3 separate regions of the Homo sapiens genome follow, and regions 1 and 3 are each linked to region 2. Evidence: fine-mapped expression QTL. A gene starts in region 2. Each other region holds a variant in brackets. All regions are shown on one strand. Distances are from middle to middle. Region 1 overlaps CCDC175 (coiled-coil domain containing 175). Region 2 holds the start of L3HYPDH (trans-L-3-hydroxyproline dehydratase). Region 3 overlaps LINC01500 (long intergenic non-protein coding RNA 1500).

What was found. PIP is the estimated chance that this variant, and not a neighbour inherited with it, causes the effect. A credible set is the group of variants that fine-mapping cannot tell apart.
Region 1: its variant is the best candidate, but not a certain one, in a credible set for the expression of L3HYPDH in whole blood (TOPMed, PIP 0.64).
Region 3: its variant is the best candidate, but not a certain one, in a credible set for the expression of L3HYPDH in ovary (GTEx, PIP 0.87).

Annotation. Positions count from the first base shown.
Region 1 is chr14:59,546,159-59,550,289 of GRCh38, forward strand. The region is part of intron 8 of CCDC175 (coiled-coil domain containing 175); the gene reads right to left. Among named protein-coding and RNA genes, the nearest start is that of CCDC175, 29 kb to the right of the region's middle. The variant T/C (reference allele first, on the strand shown) is at 1,750.
Region 2 is chr14:59,481,901-59,486,031 of GRCh38, forward strand. L3HYPDH (trans-L-3-hydroxyproline dehydratase) reads right to left here and starts at 2,508. Exons shown (of 5, transcript NM_144581.2): 1 at 1,909-2,508. The coding sequence starts at 2,416. JKAMP (JNK1/MAPK8 associated membrane protein) reads left to right here and starts at 2,617. Exons shown (of 7, transcript NM_016475.5): 1 at 2,617-2,693. The coding sequence starts at 2,690. RefSeq lists an enhancer at 2,583-2,862.
Region 3 is chr14:58,857,096-58,861,226 of GRCh38, forward strand. All of the region lies in intron 1 of LINC01500 (long intergenic non-protein coding RNA 1500), which reads left to right. Among named protein-coding and RNA genes, the nearest start is that of LINC01500, 31 kb to the left of the region's middle. The variant A/G (reference allele first, on the strand shown) is at 1,911.

The DNA of each region.
Region 1 (4,131 bases), 64 kb after region 2:
TTTCTAGCAACATGGGTGCACCTAGAGGCCATTATCCTAAGTGGATTAATGCAGAAGCAGAAAATGAAATACTGCATATTCTCATTTATAAGTAGGAGCTAAATATTAGGTATACATGGACACAAAGATGGGAACAATAGACACTGGGACTCCAAAAAGATGGAGGGAAGAAGTGGGGAAGGGTTGGAAAACTACCTATTGGGTATTATGTTCACTACTTGGGTGACGGGATCATTAGCAGCCCAAATCTCAGCATTATGCAATATACCCTTGTAATAAACCTGCACATGTGCTTGAATCTAAAAAAATAAAAATAAAAAATAAAGGATAATAGGTGATTGCTAGGCCTAATTCTAGGAGAATGAAGAATCCAGAGCGGTAAGGCTAGCACTTAAAATTCCTCTGCCTTGAAAACACTTACTAACATAGAAGAAACCACTTGAAAACCAAGTTTTGGGTTTTTTTGCATGGCAAGTGGAACAAAAGCCAACATGTAATGCTCATCCAGGTGTTGAGCCTACATAAACCTCCCACTATTTTAGTCTGGGATTCCAAAGAGCTTCACCCTTTGGAAGGCTGAGGCAGGAGGATTGCTTGAGACTGGGAGGTCCGAGGCTGCAGTGAGCCATGATCATACCACTGCACTCTAGTCTGGGTGACAGAGTGAGATCCTGTCTCAAAAATAAATAAATAAATAAATAAAAAAGAATGCACAATTAAAAGATGAACAAATATCTAGAGCTTCTCAACATTTGAGTAAAATCAATACTGTAAAACAAAGCAATCAAAATCTACTATAGGCCAGGTGTGGTGGCTCGTGCCTGTAATCCTAGCACTTTGAGAGGCGGAGGTGGGAGGATCACTTGAGCCCAGGAGTTAGAGACCAGCCTGGGCAACACAGGGAGAATAGGACAAAAGAAACAGGTGAGGACATAATGGCTGAAAATTTTGCAGAACTTATGAAATATAGAAATTCTCAGATTTAAGAAGCCAAATAAATCCCAAGGAGGAAAAATGAAAAGAAAATTTGGACACATCATAGTGCAACTGAACAGCTAAGGCAAAGGGAACAAAGAAGATCTAAAACAAAAGACATATGCCATGTTAACGGATTGGAAGCCTCAATACTGTGAAAATGTGAAACCCTCTTCAAACTGATTTACAGATTTAACACAATCCCAATCAAAATCCAAACAGGTTTTTTGGAAGAACGTGACAAAATTGAAAAGGTCAAGAATAGCTGGAACACTTTTGAAGAACAAAGGTGAAGGATTTATACCACTGGCCATAAAAACTCATTTTAAAGGTACTAATTAAGACAATATTGTTTTAGTGTGAGGAGAGATGAATAGTTCAAATGAATAGAGTCAACAATCCACATATACATTTATGATCTATACTTGATTTATGACAATAGTATGACCACAATGTAGTGAAGGAAAGGATTGTATTTTCAGTAAATGGTGCTGGTTAATTGGACAACCTTATGGAAAAATATGAATCTTGACCACTATCTCAAAGCACATACACATAAATTCCAGATGGTTCGTAGTCTTAAATGTGAAAGGTCAAACAACAAAGCTTCTCAATGGTAACAGAAGAGAATAGTCTCATGACATAGGACATAGAGAACATTAACTAAAAAGATTGATAAACTGGACTTCATTAAAATTAATAAATTATATTCATCAAAAATATGTACATAAATATTGTATATTTATGGTTTATGTATTGTTCTGTAATGTGTAA[T/C]ATTTTATAATAACAAAGCTAAATCCAACAATGCCACTGCTGGGTATATATCCCAAGGAAATGAAATCAGTATGGCAAAGAGATATCTGTACTTCTATGTTCATTGCAGCACTATTCAGAGTAGCTAAGATGTAGAATCAACCTAGGTGTTCATCAGCCGATGAATGGATAAAGAAAATGTATACATGCACAATTGAATATATTCAGCCTTAAAAAAGAAGAAATTCTTGTCATTTGTGACAACATGGATGAACCTGGAGGACATCATGTTAAGTGAAATAATTCAGGTACAGAAAAACAAATATTACATGATCCCAATTATACGCAAAATCTAAAAAAAAACTGAACTCAGAAGTAGAGAGTAGAATGGTGGTTGCCAAGGGCTGGTGAGGGAGGGGAGATGCTGGGAAAAAAAGGTAAAGTTTGAGTTGAATGTCAATCTTTGAATGTTCCTCCAATAACTCATGAGAATTATGATTGGATGTCACTAAGAGCCCATAGTTTCTACCCTAGTGAAAATAATAAATAAGCAAGAGCCTTGCATTCTTTGAAGTGATCACTCACTTATAACCATGGAATTTGGCTAAGGGCTATGGATTAAAGGAAAACTCTTTGACCAAGTAAGCCATGCCAGTTTAGGGGTCCTAGACTGTTCAGAAAATCATGTGGGCTAGAAAATGTGGAGTTATTGTCAGAAAGTTGTCTACTAGCTTCTGCAGTAGGAAACAAATGGGAGGAAAAATAATATTTTGCTCACAAAATGAAAGACAAATTCGAAACCAACCAACCAGCCAACAAACCAACCTTGTCTGGTTTCTGTCTGTTGTTAGGTATCCTTGCAAATAAAAGAATCACAGTAGCCCAGAGGGGAAGCCATCTCTCATGCTGATAGCTCACAAAAGCAAAAATGGAAAGCATTTAATTGGTACAAATCATTCTTCTGGGAGGGAGCTGCCTTTGATATCCCTGATGAGCCTCAGGGCATGGGTACAGAGGCAGATATTATGCTTTGTAAAAGAGGGAGAAGAATTTGGATGTGGGGTGGTATCCTACAGCAAGAAGATAGATGAGGAACTGTGAGAGAAAGAAAAGGTGGTGAACAAGATGGCTTTGTGCTCTGCAACAGGATTTCTCCCCATGACCACTAAAATTTCCAACAGAGTTTGCAATAGATCATGAAATGCTTAGTGTAATTAAATTTGTTTTAGAAACTAGTGAAAAATGTGAATTTTATATCCTGGTTGACTTGGGCAAAACAAAGATAGAGGATGTAGACAGAGAGTACCTGACCCAAGTCCTGAACAATTAAAATTAAGTATGTGTGGCTAGGGGTGGTGGCTCACGCCTGTAATCCCCAGCATTCTGGGAGACCAAGGCAGGAGGATTGCTTGAACTGAGGAGTTCACAACCAGCCGAGGCAACATAAAGCGACCTGTCTCTGCAAATAATTTAAAAATTAGCTGGGCATGGTGTTGAGTGCCTGTAGTCTCAGCTATTCAGCAGGCTGCAGCAGGAGGATCACCTAGGCCTGGGAGGTTGAGGCTATAGTGATTTGTGACTATGCCACTGCATTCCAGCCTGGTGGGTGGATCATTTCAGGTCAGGAGTTGGAGACCAGCCTGACCAACATAATGAAACCCTGTCTCTATTAAAAGTACAAAAATTAGCCAGGTGTCATGGCACAAGCCTGTAATCCCAGCCACTTGGGAGGCTGAGGCAGGAGAATCGCTTGAACCCCAGAGGCAGAGGTTGCAGTGAGCTGAGATCATGCCACTGCACTCCAGCCTGGGTGATAGAGTGAGACTATGTCTCAAAAAAAAAAAGAAAAAGAAAAAGAAAAAAAAGAAAGAAAAGAAAGGAAATTAAGTTTGGATATATGAGGTGTTGGGAAGAGATACTAAGGATATTTCTCCTTCAATACAAGGGACAAGAAGAATTTCAGTTATGTCTAGTGTGTATGTATATTTGTGTGTATAAGTAATTAAATGGGATCATATCATACATACTGTTGTTTCTCTTTTTTAGAGGGACTCTTGCTCTGCCCCCAGGCTGGAGTGCAGTGGTGCGATCTCAGCTCACTGCAACCTCTGTCTCCCAGGTTCAAGCAATTCTCCTGTCTCAGCCTCCTGAGCAGCTGGGACTACAGGTGCACACCACCACACCCAGCTAATTTTTTATTTTTGTAGAAATGGGGTTTCACCATATTGGTCAGGCTGATCTCAAACCCCTGACCCCAGGTGATCCACTCACCTAGGCCTCCCAAAGTGCTGGAATTACAGGCGTGAGCCACCATGACTAGCCTACTGTTTTATAATATAGTATTTGTCACTCAATAACGTATTATGAGCAATACTGATACTTATTTAACCAAGGCCTTTTGGT
Region 2 (4,131 bases):
CGTATGGGGAGTTCCTGGCACAGATTAGGGACTCGAAAGCCAAAACTTTAATTTCCAGTGGCAATAGGTTTCTCAAGAGGACCAGATGTTTACATTTGTCAATCAGCATATTCTTCTCCAAATTTCATTTATTTAGTTACTCATTCAACAAACATTCATTGACTGACTACTCTTCTAGGCACTTAGAATACTGTGAACAAGAAAGAGTTTGCATTTTAGCCTGGTGGGGTGGAGATGAACTCAGCAACCCTCTGAGGTGGGTACTGTTGTCATCCTCATTTTGCAGACTGTGATACTGAGGCATGGACTCTCTAGCACAAGGTCACTGAGATGGGGAGAGGTGGGGCAGTGACCTTGAACACTATGTCTGCCTTGTATGCATTTTTCAAAGTAGAGAATATAGCATTTCATTTTCTTAACTCAGTGACCATTAATGCCCACTAATCATTGTACTGTCATACAGTGATGCTCTCAGGAACTACTGAGAGGAACTACTGAGGTCAAGTGGTTGACTGACCCTGCCCTAACTGACCCAGAAATGAGATGTAGTTTGTGTTCCTGCTGCCAGCTGCCATTTCCTACAGAAGTCTAGAGTGTTTCTACTCTGCTGCTGGAGTTGCCTAGGGGGAATTCTGGTAGCCACGCTAGTTAAACTGTTGAGGTTTTAAAAATGGAATCGTAAACATAAATTCTGTCTCCCTCAAGTGGCCTCCCAGTCTGGAAGTGACACCATTCTCTGGGAAAATGGCATCAATTTCTCCAGAGGCATTCTTCGTTAACTCGTGGATTTCAGCTGCCTAAGGTTGCTCTAAAAGTGCCTGTTCTATCAGTTATCATTCATAATCAGGCTAATCTGAAACCTAGTTCTTCAGGGGGAATCAAGGTCCAACTTTCTAACAGATGATTTGCATGGCTTGAAGATTTTTAAGAAAAGGATAACTCTATTCCTGGTAAACTGGCTCCTGGCTCACTTCCAGTCACAATGACTAAAGCATTCTTACTGATAGAATTCAGCTCCTGGGAGGTAGTAGTCTGATGAGAAACCAGATGCCAGCTTGCCAGGTCATCCCTCCTGTAAGGGTTATGGTTATAGAGATGCCCTGCTTTACATGATAAGCTGTACAAGGATCTGTACTAGAGAATCCAGCAAAACCTTTTAATGGCTCAATAGGCCTAGGGAACTTTAGCGATCATATAAACCTTGCAATCTATCTCCAGGAATACAGTATCTTGCATACTCTCATTTAATCCTAACAAAAAAACTCTATGAGGGAAAAGAAGAAACACAGGCACAGAGAGATTAAGTAATTTGCCTAAGGTTGCACAGCTTTAGGGGGTTATCAGGATTTGAAACCAGGCAATGTGTGTTCCTGTTCTTAAAGAAAAGCAACATTCGTATCTTAATGATTTATAAACTGCTTTGTTCATTCATTCTCATTTAATTCTTCAAAGAAGTGGGGGAGGTGAGGAAAGGAGACCAGGTTTAGTAACTTATTAAGTGTGATTCTGTGTCTACCAAGCATATTCTCAGCCAGCCTGGAACCCTGGTACATTGGCTGTTCTTCGCTCTTTCCTTGACCCCACCGTACCTTGCTTTATCCACCGGTGAAATCTCTAGGAATGCCTCACCAGTGCAGAGGGAGGCGCTGAGTCAGGGTAACACGCAATTCCTCGCTCCTCAAGGGTCTCCCAAAACCACAGGCGGATGGGAGTCAGGGAAAATCGAAATTACACGCACCAAATACGCAAGGCTGCTGACACACGTTGGCAGTGATTTACCTTTCTATTAATTGCAAGGTTTCGCGGAGTAGGTTAGTTGCCAGAGTTCCAGCCCAGAAAAACCGTTAATGTAGTTAGTCGCGTCCCGGTTGCAGCTCTGCCCTGGGCTGGAAAGGTCCCGCCCATTACCTGTGGCCAGCACGAAGGCCGGGACGCTGTGGAAGCGCACCGGTCCGTGGCTGCGGCCGTCCTCGCATGCCACGAAGGCGGTCACCAGCCCGCAGGGGCAGTGGATATTGACGCGGGCCTCGCGGGTGCCCGCAGGGGGCGCCGGCACAAGCCCGAAGTCCAAAGCGAAGCGGCCCAGCGCCAGCACTGCGTGGCCGCACATGGAGCTGTAGCCCTCGTTGTGCAGGAACAGGACGCCCAGATGCGCGTCCGGCAGCTCGCTCGGGACTAGGACCGCCCCGTACATGTCCCGGTGCCCTCGGGGCTCGAACATGAGCCGTCGCCGCACGTGGTCAAGGTGCTGGCGCATGTAGCGCCGCTTGGCCAGCAGGGTGGGCCCAGACACCTCCGGACACCCCGCCAGCACGATACGCAAGGGCTCGCCGCCCGTGTGCATGTCCACCACCGACAGCACCGGCGTCCCTGGATCATGCGGGGGCAGCCGGGGCACCGCCAGCGCGCTCTCCATGGTCTGCGTCGGGGGAGACGAGTACGGTCCCGCAGCTATGGCTTCAAGCCCGACCCTCACCCACTGACTCCGCGGGAGGAGGGCGGGACGCTAACCAGCCACGTCCGGGGGGCGGGGTCTCGGAGCCTAAACCCGGAAGCGAGGGAGGAACTTCGGAGCTGTCGCCCGGGTTACCGGGAGGCGGAGCCGCCGAGCTCGCTGTGGCCCGGATGTTCGGTGCAGCTGCCAGATCCGCTGATCTAGTGCTTCTCGAAAAAAACCTTCAGGCGGCCCATGGGTGAGTGGTCGCCAAGATCCCGGGAAGCGTTTCTGGTAGTCCCGACTACTTTCCTACACGGCTGGCCTCGGGCTCGGCTCTTTGTAGGCGGCCTTCGGTTGGCGGCGCAGGCTCGCCCCTTGACCCCGCCCGCCCTCGGGCCGGGCTCCGCACTCCTGCGGGGTTGGGGTGGTCTGTCCGCAACGGGCTACTAGGGGAGGCGCGCTGTCTGCGGCGAAATGCCAGGTCTTTGTTGTTTGGTCCGAAATGTCTCTTCAGTCCCTTAGTTTAATGTCGAGGGAACACTTGCTTGAGGGTTGACTTCGGAATTGAAAACGCGGGTGATAGTGCAGAAAAAACAGTAAAGCAGAAGCAAGTTGCTGCATAATTTGTCTACTGCTTCAACCTCAAACGTAGATTTATAGCGCCCGTCACAAAGGGCAGGACCGCTGCAAAAAAATGGAATCTTAAAACTTTAGCCATCGTTCGCTAAAGGAAATGAAAGGAGAAATTCAACAGTCGCTTGGAGCCTGGGTTTTGCTTAGTAAGTGATAGGCTGTTTATTTCAGTTCAGTTTATCATACTGGTTTTCAGGCCTTGGATTTTGAGAAACTTTAGATTATTGATATTCACGTGTATTTATTAAGCATCTACTAGATGTAAAGCCCATACAGAAGTTTCCAATTCCTTACCTTCTGCATTCTTGAAAAACCTGAAATATTCATTTTCATGTATTAATTTAGAACATTGTGATTACAATTGGTTACAAAAAAAATAAGCGCCCATTAAAGAGGCCAGTGGGTTTAAAAAGCTAAGTCCGAAATTTGTTAAAAGCGAAAATATTAAACTGGAGGAATATTATTCAATGCTGTTTCTCTTTTTCTCTCAGCAGCATAAGGAGAAGGAAGTAAAAAGTCTGCTTGAATGTGAAAGGAGAGAAGGCACTGTAGACCAGGCAGTCTAGATTGTGAATTCGTGAATAATTTGGGAAATGATTGTTCAAGAATAGTCAAAAGATGCATAATTTTTCAAATTAATTCACATGTAGACCGCAGTTTGTTTTGAGACGGAGTCTCCTTCTGTAGCCCAGGCTGGAGTGCAGTGGCGCGATCTCGGCTCACTGCAACCTCTGCCTCCTGGGTTCAAGCGATTCTCCTGCCTCAGCCTCCCCAGTAGCTGGGACTACAGGCGCGCGCCACCACGTCAGGCTAATTTTTGTATTTTTAGTAGAGACGGGGTTTCACCATTTTGGCCAGGCTGGTCTGGAACTCCTGACCTCATGATCTGCCCACCTCGACCTCCCAAAGTGCTGGGATTACAGGCGTGAGCCACCTCACCGAGCCTGTTTGTTTGTTTTAATCAATGAATGAATGAAGGGAATCAGATGTCACTGATGAAGAAAACTTCCATAATTTCTTGTGAATAAGGTCAAAGACAACGTATTAGGTTCTTAGTTGTT
Region 3 (4,131 bases), 620 kb before region 2:
TTCTTCCTGATTCAATCTTGGTAGGTTGTCTGTGTCCAGGAATTTATCCATTTCCTCTAGGTTTCCAGTTTGTTAATATATAGTTATTCATAATCATCTCTGACAATTTTTCCTATTTTTGTGGTATCAATTGAAATGTTTCTTTTTTATTTCTGATTTTGTTTACTTGAGTCTTCTCTCTTTTTTTCTTGGCTAGTCCAGCAAACAGTTTATCAATTTTATCTTTTCAAAGAACCAACTTTTCATTTTGTTGATCCTTTGTATTTTTTTAGTCTCTATTTTGCTTAGTTCACTCAGATTCTTATTATTTCTTTTCTTACAACAATTTTGGATGTGGTTTGTTACTGCTTTTCTAGTTCTTTAGGTCCATCATTAGATTGCTTATTTGAATTCTTTCTATTTTTTTTTGATGTAGACATTTATTGCTATAAACTTCCTCTTAGCATTGCTTTTGCTCTATCCCATAGCTTTTGGTAGCTTGTGTTTTGATTCTCATTTATTTCAATAAATTATTTGATATTCTCCTTAATTTCTTCCTTGATCCGTTGGTCATTCAAGAGCATGTTTGTGCAGTTTCCAAGGTTTCTGTTATTAATTTCTAGTTTTATTCCATTGTGGTATGAGAAGATGCTTGATATAATTTCTATTTATTTTTTTTTGATATTTGTTTTGTGTGTTAATGTATGGTCTAGCCTAGAAAATGTTCCATGTGCCGAAGAGAAGAATGTATATTCTATAGCTGTTGGACGAAATGTTCTGTAAACGTCTGTTAGGTCCATTTGGTCTAATGTGCAGTATAAATCCAATGTTTCTTTGTTGATTTTCCATCTAGATGATCTGTCTAATGTTGCGAGTGGGGTGTTGAAATCCCAAACTATTGTCATTTTGGAGTCAGTCTTTCCCTTTAGATCTAATCATATGTGCTTTATATGTCTACATGCTCCAGTGTTGGGTGCGTATATGTTTAGAATTGCTATATCCTCTTTCTGACTTGATCCCCTCATCATTATACAATGATATAGTAATTCTTTATCTCTTTTTACCGTTTTTGACTTAAAGTCTGTTTTATCTGATATAAGTACAGCTACTCCTGCTTACTTTTGGTTTCTGTTTGCATGACATACCTTTTTCTATCCCTTTATTTAGAGTCTGTATGTCTTTACAGGTGAGATTAGGTTCTTATAGGCAGCATATACTTGAGTTTTTAAAAATTCATTTGGATAGTCTGTATCTTTTAAGTGGAAAGTTTAATCAGTTTATATTCAAGGTTATTATTGATATGTGAGGGCGTATTCCTATCACCATAGTAATTGATTTCTGGTCATTTTGTATATCCTCTGTTCCTTTCTTTTTTCTCTTATTGCTTATTATTTTAGTTTGGTGGTTTTCTGTAGTGGTAACATTTGAGTCTTTTCCTTATCTATTTGCTCTACCAGTGGGTTTGATATTTTTGTGTGTTTTCACGATGGTAGATATTGTTCTTTCACTTCTGGGTGTAGAACTTCCTTAAGCATTTCTGGTAGGACCAATCTAGCGCTGATGAATTCCCTGAGCTTTTGCTTATCTGGGAAAAACTTTATGTCTTCTTCATTTATGAAAGACAACTTTGCTGAGTATAGTACCTTTGGATGGCAGTTGTTTTTCTTTCAGCACTTTGGATATATCATCCTATTCTCTCCTGGTCTGTAGGTTTCTGCTGAGAAATTTGCTGTTAGTCTGATGGAGTTTCCTTTATAAGTGACTAGATGCTTTTCTTCTGCTGTTTTCAGAATTCTCTGTTTGTCTTTGACTTTTGACAGTTTGACCACAATGTGCTACGGAGAAGACTTTTCTGAATTGTATCTATTTGGTGATCTCTGAGTCTCCTGTATCTGTCTGTCTAAATCTCTTGCTAGACTTGGGAAGTTTTC[A/G]TCTATTATTTTGTGAAATAAGTTTTCTAAACTTTTGGTCTTCTTTTTGCCTTCTAGGGTACAGAAATTGGAATATTTGGTTGCTTTATGGTCTCCCATATGTCATGTAGTCTTTGCTCATTCTTTTTAAATTCGTTTTCTTTTTTTTTTGTCTGACTGGGTTATTTCAAAAGACTTATTTTCACATCTTAAACTTCTTTTTTTTTTCTTGATCTAGTCTAGTCTATTGTAGAAGCTTTTGAATGTATTTTGTAATTCATCCAATGAATTCTTCAGTTTTAAAATTTATGGTTGGTTCTTTTTTATGAGATCTATCTCTTTGGTGAATTTTTCATTCATACCCTGAATTGTTTTTCTGACTTTTTTGTATTATTTTTCAATATTCTCTTGCATCTCACTGAGCTTCTTTAATATCAATATTTTGATTTTTTCTGGGATTTTGTAAATTTCTTTTTTATTGGAATCTGTTGCTGGAGAGTTATTGTGTTCCTTTAGAGATGTCGTATTTCCTTGCTTTTTTATGTTCCTTGTGTCCTTACACTGATATTTGTGCATCAGTGTAGCAGTCCCTCTTTCAATTTTTTGAATTTGCTTTCATAATGGGGTGCTTTTTCCCTGAAGATGTATGTATGGTGTTGATTGGGTAGGGCACTTTGGCTTTGATTCTTGGCGTGTGTAGTAGTGTAGTCTGTGTATGATTTCTTCAGCTATTAACAGAGTTAGTGGTGCCTGTGATTTACTTGGTGGCCTAGGGTTCAGTTGTTAGTGGAGGTTGTGGTGAATTTTTAATGGAGACTGGGATACCAGGTGGGCCCGTCTTCCAGTCCTTGTGGTACAGTGGTGGGCTGAGTATGCTTATTCTTTGGCCCCAGAGTGGTATACATTGGCACTGGTGTTATTGTGTCCAGGCAGACCAATTCTTGGGCCTCCAGGTGGCTTTCGAGAGTGCCAGGAGTGGCAGCCATGGACACTATGGGTGGGCAAATTCTTGGGCTCCTGGGCTGCAGACGTGGCATAGGTGATGTCAGTAGTAGTGGCAGGATACCCTCTGTGTCTCACATTTGTGTTGGCAGTATATGCAACAGGCTGTGCTTGCCAGTGCCCAGGCCTGCAAATGGCATATATGGGTGGGTATCAGCTGTGGTGGTAGCAGCAGGTTGGGTGAGCCCAACCTCAGGCCCCCAGGAGGAATGCTCAGGTGCCTATGATGGTGGAGTGGGATGGTGGATTGGGCTCTATGCCTCAGATAGTGTGCTTGCATACTAAGGGTATGGAGTCCAGCTGGGAGGACCTGCCTTTAGCCCTCGCCACTGGTGTGTATTCAGGCACTGGATGTGGTAGGCAGGGGCAGGGCAGTCTGCAGGTCACTGGTGAAATGCTTAGGTAGGGGCAGCAGTGACTATGCTGTAGGCCTGCTACTAGGAGGGTGGGGTTGCTTTCACTGGGAGCAGCCACAGGCAGGTAGCCAGGGGTGTATGCTTTGCTATTGCTTCGGCCCCTTTGCAGCAGCCCACAGCAACACCAGCTGCAAGCAGTGTGAAAGTGCATGGCCACCCCTTTGCTAGGGGTTGGGTTGAAGTTGCCTGTGGCAGCTCAGCCTTCATCCTGGCAGTGGCAGCAGTTGGCAGTGGTAGCAGCATGGTGTGGGGTGGCTTTTGTAATGGATGCCCCTCTGCTGGTGGGGTCGGGTCACTGCCAGTGACTTGTGTTTTGGCACTTATGGTGGCAGCAGCCAGCTGTGGCAGTAGCTATGGGTAGGTTACCCTTCAGGGGAAGTAGCTGCTGGTGGGGAATGTCACTGGGGCTCTGGGGATATGCAGATGCAGGGGCTATTTTTCCCCAGGGCAAGATACAGACTGGTAGGAAATGGGATCTCAAAATAGTGTTGTGCTCTAGCTGCTTTGGACTTAGGAGGTGTATAGGACTCAGTGTGAGCTTCCTTTCTGGAACAATGCTGTTGTGCAGTCTCCAGACAGCTCCCTATGTTGGTCTTAGGTCCTGTGAGGGTCAAGGGGCTCTCCTGTGGCTATAATTGCAGGAGTCCACAGTGGGAATGTGGACCACTTATCTGTTTCCCACATTGAGGAGTCTCTCCAGGCTCCCAGCCAATCTTGGCTGAGCAGGCTGCTCCTCTCCTTCCTGTCTTAGGTATGTCCTTTCACTCCTCTGTTGAATTTCAGTGTTCTCTCTTAGATGTCTATTCAAAATGTGATTATCTACT